Linked DNA regions of Homo sapiens. The protein of the gene in region 1 purifies or fractionates together with the protein of each later gene. This does not show direct contact. Each region holds a gene or a part of one and is shown on either strand. Other genes may lie near its edges.

Region 1 (3,500 bases):
CAGGCACTTGCCCTTGTGGCCGCCTTTGACCGGAAGAGTCTACGTTCAGACAGCCCCATGGCTCTTTCCAGGTCTGCATTCAAGCGTCACCTCAAGCTGCCATCACCCCACCCCACACATCCCCTTTGGCTCTTGGTTCCTGCCTAACCTGCAGCTTCTAACGTGCTGTTCCTTTCCCTTCTTTGCCCCTTGTATTTTCTGTGGCTCCAGGAGAGCAGGCATTCTCGTCTGCTCACTGCCGTCTCCTCGGTGCCTAGAATATAGCAGGTGTTCAACCGATATTTTTAAATGTATGAGAGGCTGAATTTATATCACGCCTCAAAACAAGAGGACTGGGGAATCCAAACATCTAAAGAAGACTGCAGCGGGGATACCCTCGGGGAGAAGTCTAGGGGCTTCCCACCCCTCCTTTTTTCTCAGTAATGTTCTTCCTAATGCTTCTCACGGACTCTCAAATTCTAAGTAACCCCAGAAAAACAACTATGAAATTCACCAGTCAAATATACAAACCACCTCGAGTGTTTGTGCATTCTCTCCCCCACCACACACACATACACACGCACGCGCGCGCACACACACACACACGCACACACAAACACATATACACCAAAAAAGAAAAGTTGAGTCTGTTTTCCATCTGGACTTTCAGACAAACCAATCATCTGTGTCCTTAATAGGTGTATTTATTGGGCAATTTCAGAATAAGTAGCATAGTGTGAGATGAGTGGGAAAAGACGGTGCTTGACCCACGGAAGTTTCTATTTATAGTCTTCCTAAAGCAGCATCCAGCAGGCACTCATTTAATGAAAAAGGAGACACACTGCTATTGACACAAAGTGAGATCAGGGTGCTGGTCCTGAGCTCTTATTGTGCTACTAGTACAGTCACAAAAATGTCCCTCCAGAGCTAAGTGCAGTGGCCCGTGCCTGTCATCCCAGCACTTTGGGAGCCCAAAGTAGGAGGATCACTTGAGGCCAGGAGTTTGAGACCAGCCTGGGCAACACAGCAAAACTCTGTCTCTACAAAAAAATAAAAAAGTTAGCCAGGCATGGTGGTGCACACCTGTAGTCCTGGCTACTCTGGAGGTTCAGGAAGGAGAATCACTTGAGCCCAGGAGTGTGAGGCTGCAGTGAGCTATGATCGCACCACCGCACTCCAGCCTGAGTGACAGAGCAAGGCTCTGTCTCAAAAAAAAAAAAAAAAAATTTTCCTCCAAACAGAAATGAGCTGCACCTAGCCACACAAGGAAAGCCCCTCGGGAACAAAAGCAAGTGCCCTCCTTACACAGGGAGCCACAGAATCTTAGGGTTGCAAGGGTACTTGAAAATTTTCTCATCGGCTGGGCGCGGCGGCTCACGTCTGTAATCCCAGCACTTTGGGAGGCCGAGGCAGGCGGATCACGAGGTCAGGAGATCGAGACCGTCTTGGCCAAAATGGTGAAATCCCGTCTCTACTAAAAAATACAAAAAAATTAGCCGGGTGTGGTGGTGCTACTTGGGAGGCTGAGGCAGGGGAATCGCTTGAACCTGGGAGGCGGAGGTTGCGGTGAGCTGAGATCCCGCCACTGCACTCCAGCCTGGTGACAGAGCAAGACTCTATCTCAAAAAAAAAAAAAGAAAAGAAAAGAAAATTATCTCATGTTCCCTGTTCCCCACCCCCAACCTGCCTTGATTTTATAGATGAAGAAACTGAGACAGGGAGAAGGTAATGTAGGTCAATGTCCAAGCAGTCCACAGGCCACAAAACCCCTCATGGCTGAACCAGACCTAAAACCCAGTCTCAAATCCTCCACGATGCCTTGTCCAGCCATCTACAGACAGGAACAACTTCAACTTCAAATGCTCAGTCTACACGAAAAACATGCATTCATATCCCGCGGAGATGAAGATCCATTTTCTAGGGCATGCCATGTTCTGTACTCCAGGGGAAATGAGGTTTGTTGGGAGACTCATTCTGCCACGTGCCAAGTACCCAGGCCTTTCCATTCACATACATTTCACAGCCTGGAAATTGCAGAAGTGACTTCTATGAGTCTAGGGTGCTTCCTAGACACCACACCGAAGCTTTCCTCCCATCCATATACTTCTCCGAATAGTATTTTAGGGGTTTTTTTATTTTTTGCTTCAGTAGTCACTGAAAGATAGCTACGATAGGGACGGCCTGAACAGCCTTGGCAAATACACCAACAGAAATGTGTACCCCTCCTAATTTGCCATTACATAACATTTATTTGTTCTCATAGTGTGCCAAGGGTCTGAAAACATGTTGATTAATAGACAATAATTAAGTCTCACCACCTTATTCAGAGATATGGTTATGTTCTGGGATTCCCTTTTGTAGGAGGCTGCACTGAAGCGCACAGGTTGAAAGGTTTGTCCCTGAGACCTGACTCAGAGGTGCATCAGACAACCCAGGCCAGACCACAAAGCCCAGTCCTTTCTCTTATGCTGCTCTTTGCTTCCTCAATCTCATTTTCCACCCTCCTGGGCCAACCTTCACTCCCATTCGGCCCCCACTCTCCAGCAAGGTCCCTCTAACCATACAGCCTAACCGCCTTGACCCCTTAGCTTCCAACAGTAAATGCTCGGCTCCATGAGGTGAGATACCTGGATAAGGCAGTGGATATCAGATTACAAAGTCTGGCAAAATGAGTGCTCCTCCAGCCTTTGCAATGCTTTATTTTAAATACATGTGAACATTGTGAGCTGACAGCCCTGCTTCTTACAAGGCTTTCCTGCCTTCGTATCTTAAAGACGTAGGGAGAAAGTAGGGCAAACAAAGTGACTGGAACTGCGGCATACTTTGGAAATGAATGCCAGTGGTTAATTGTCGATGCCTTTCATTTGTGTTAGATTTCATTCAAAACAAGAGAAGGGCCCAGACTCAAAATCCCCACTGAAGGGACCAGAAGTCAACTCCACATTAAGACTCGGGCCAGAGTCACCGGTCATGGCCCAGGGTGGAGCAGGCATCTTGAACTGGGGACCACTTCTAGAAAGTACACAGAGGCGGCTGGGCGCAGTAGCTCACGCCTGTAATCCCAGCACTTTGGGAGGCCGAGGCAGGCGGATCATGAGGTCAGGAGATCGAGACCATCCTGGCTAACACGGTGAAACCCCGTCTCTACTAAAAATACAAAAAAATTAGCCAGGCATGGCGGCGGGCGTCTGTAGTCCCAGTTACTCGGGAGGCTGAGACAGGAGAATGGCGTGAACCCATGAGGCAGAGCTTGCAGTGAGCCGAGATTGCGCCACTGCACTCCAGCCTGGGCAACAGAGTGAGACTCCGTCTCAAAAAAAAAAAAAAGAAAGTCCACAGAAGCAAAAGGACGACAATCCAAAAGCTCTGAAATGCTTCCAAGTTTTCCAAGTTTAGATAACATTATGCTATCATTATTGCCATCATTATGTTTTCTCATTTATTTTATTTTATTTTTTTGAGACCGAGTCTCACTCTGTGGCCCAGGCTGGAGGGCAGTGGCGCAATCTCAACTCACTGAA
Region 2 (3,500 bases), on another chromosome or scaffold:
CTCACATTCCATGATCTCGGTCTTTCCCTTTCCAGATGGTCTCTGAGGATGTTGCAAAGAATGTCCAGATCTTATAGGAACATGTATGAAACATGCTGCAACAGACCAGCAGTGGAGGTTTGGCTCTGTCCTGTGTCTGCCACTGAATAGCTGAGTGACTTTGGTCAAGTCACTTAATGTGCCTGGATGTCGGCTTATTCATTTATAAAATGATTTGGATTAAATTAAATTCCAGATCCAAAGTCTAATTTTATTTGCTTTGAAATAGTTATGTGGTTCATTCCCTTAATCACATGAGCCTCACGAAGGCCCCTCTTTGATTCACCTCTGTAAGTCCAATACCTAAAACTATGCCTGGCATATGGCAGGTACTCATTAGCTATTAATTGAATGAGTAAATGCATGGAAATGATAACAATAACTAATTTGTTATTGAATAAAGTATTAACATTTAAAAGTGTTTATTCATATGTAAAATAGTTTCAGCTATTTTACTTTAGGTGACCAAAATAATACCTACCACATTTTTATATGAAGGCAAATTGATTAAAATCCTATTAATTTTAATGTTAGCTTGGCCTGGAACATGTATCAAATGACCAGTTTGTTTGATTTACTTAATATATTGATTAGTTATTATGATTGGCAGTTACAGGTGGTTATAACAGAAATTGTAGACTAGAGTTGGATTTAGAGAAGTCTGAGAGAGGAAGGAGTTGAAAATGCATGCCTCTAAAGTTTGAGTTTAGGTGACTGAAGTATGGAGGTCCTTATAATAAATATAGATATGCCAGGGAGGGTGTATTAAAGATAGCAACCCTGCCTGCCTGTTCACATTCATTATTTATTTTTATTAAAAAAGTCTTCATGTAACACTTTATGTTAGGCCCTATTCTGAGTGGTTTACAAATACAAATTTATTTAATTTCTTAGTAATATCATAAGGTGGGTACGGTTATTATCTTCATTATATGGATGGGAAAACTGAGTCTCAGACTAAGTAACTTTTAGGAGAATGTTTCTCCATTTGCAAACTGTACTTTTGAGAGCAGAGAAGAGGGAGAAGACATGAGGAACAAGGATAGAGTAGGCTGGAGTCAAGGGAAGGAGAAGGAGAGACACATGGCACTTGCAGCAAGAAAGGAGGGTATGAGAAAGCAGAAGACTCCTAAAATAACTAGAGGAATGCCAAATTCTCTGAGGAAGGAAGAGGAGGAGAAAATTAGTCAGAAAGGGAGAGAATTAGAAGACAGAAAGGCCAAGATTACATTTTTTACTTTTGTATTTTGAGACAGAGTCTCACTCTGTCACCCAGTTGGAGTGCAGTGGCATGATCTCAGCTCACTGCAACCTACGTCTCCTGGGTTCAAGGGATTCTCCTGCCTCAGCCTCCCTAGAAGCTGGAATTACAGGTGTGTACTGCATGCCTGGCTAATTTTTGTATTCTTAGTAGAGATGGGGGTTTCACCATGTTGGCCAGGCTGGTCTTGAACTCCTGACCTCAGGTGATCTTCCCGCCGCGGCCTCTGAAAGTGCTGGAATTACAGGTGTGAGCCACGGCACCCGGCCCAAGATTACATTTAATTGAAATTAGAAAGCACAATTCATTTCTTCATTTGCTACCAGCTTATTTTTATGACCATTTGAAAATCTGTGATCCTTTTTTAAAGAGAATGAAAGCATTATGCTAAATAATGCTATAGTTGACAGAGCTCTTCATCTGACTCCAGAATACATCCCTTCAAGTCTTTCTTTGGGACATCTGGAAGAGAGAAGCCAGACTATCTGCTCCCTGAAATCACTCCACAAAAGCAGGTTGTTGCTAGAGCTCCAGGACTGACCTTTTCTGGCTGTGGGTTAATGCTAATCTCCGGTACATTCCTGTATTTTCTTTTCTTTTTATTTTTTTTGAGACGGAGTCTCGCTCTGTCACCCAGGCTGAAGTGCAGTGGCACGATCTTGGCTCACTGCAACCTCTGCCTCCCAAGTTCAAGTGATTCTCCTCCATCAGCCTCCCAAGTAGCTGCAATTACAGGTGTGGGCCACCACGCCCAGCTAATTTTTGTATTTTTAGTAGAGACGATGTTTCACCATGTTGGCCAGGCTGGTCTCGAACTCCTGACCTCACATTCCTGTATTTTCTAAGGATCAGGTCAAGGTATTTCTGTGCTACCTTCTCATATTCAAGTTCTTTGGAAACTCTTTCTCTCACCAGGCACTTTTTTGAGATTTGGGCAGCTTGAAGAGTTTTATTTATTCTAAGCACTTGGAAGAAAGGATTCTTTAGGTGTCTGGATTTGAGGGAGTTATGATGAAAGGCCACTTCAAAAGAACAACCCAGATTCATCATTTCACAATAACATGACTTGTGTTGATTGGAAAATTATTTCTTTCAATATAGAGGTGTTGGTAGCCAGGGATTCCTTATTAAAACTTTACTTATTAAAAAGTTAACATCACTGTGCATATTCAGAACTTAAAGCCTTATCAACTAGTATGTAAATTGAGATTACAATAATCTTGTCATAATTTTTATATCTACACTATAGTTTATAATTTATAAATTCTCATTTACCCTTCAGCAGCCCTGTGAAGCATATAGTGTTGTTATTATTTTACACATAGGGAAATTGGGGCCCTATAAATAGATTCTAAATTGCTCAAGATTCATCTGGATGGTAAACATTAGAGATGAGTTTAAGCCCACATCTTCTGAGCCCAGCTTGAACACTCTTCTAGTCACAGAAATCAGCATTAGGGTCCGGGAAAAAGCCTGATTGTTTTCTGGGGGATATTATAAGGTAAGTGAGAAATATGAGAATATCCAAGAGTAAATTCCGTCCACTTCATCAGTTCTTCTGCCCTCTCTCTCTCTACTCTACTGGCGTAATATTCTGAGGCTATCCATCCTCATTCAATAAAAAAGTACATTCCACTTCTTGATTCTTATTTGAAATTTTGTCAAAATAAAATTTAATAAATACTTGCAGGTACATAGCATGAGAGAAAAATATGGTTATTATTACAGCATGTATCACCTTGTAATCACATTATATCATTATTAATTTTAATCTTCCTTTGCCAGTACACCCTAAATTTCTTAAAGATAGAAGGTCCACTTTGTAGTCTTCTCTTGGTTTTGGAAGCCATCCTTTCCTGTCCCCTCTTGTGGGTCCTCCATTTTCTCTATCCATATCTAAACTTCCTACATTTTCTCCCTAGGTGAAAATGTTGTAAGGTTTCATGGCTTCAAGTATGTTTTAAATATAGACTTTACCCCTAGATTTCTTTCTGAACTCCAGACAACATATATCCACTGTTTTCTTGATATCTTGATGTGGAAGTCTAATAGCCATTTCAAATGTAACATGCCCCAAACTAGAACGTTTTTGTTCATTTCTTTCTTTTTTTTTCTTTTGAGACAAAATCTTGCTCTGTCACCCAGGCTGTAGTGCAGTGATGCAATCTCGGCTCACTGCAAACTCTGCCTCCCAGGTTCG

The links. Proteins that work in one complex are often made in the same cells at the same time.
Region 2: the proteins of CAMK1D (region 1) and MUC7 purify together in Homo sapiens (affinity purification with mass spectrometry; 3 studies listed by BioGRID and IntAct, with this or other methods). This does not show direct contact.

The regions. Positions count from the first base shown.
Region 1 is NC_000010.11:12,352,547-12,356,046, reverse strand, and holds part of CAMK1D (calcium/calmodulin-dependent protein kinase type 1D), read right to left. Parts: intron 1-3,500. UniProt on the Homo sapiens protein: Calcium/calmodulin-dependent protein kinase that operates in the calcium-triggered CaMKK-CaMK1 signaling cascade and, upon calcium influx, activates CREB-dependent gene transcription, regulates calcium-mediated granulocyte function and respiratory burst and promotes basal dendritic growth of hippocampal neurons.
Region 2 is NC_000004.12:70,475,197-70,478,696, reverse strand, and holds part of MUC7 (mucin-7 precursor), read right to left. Parts: intron 1-3,500. UniProt on the Homo sapiens protein: May function in a protective capacity by promoting the clearance of bacteria in the oral cavity and aiding in mastication, speech, and swallowing. Binds P.aeruginosa pili.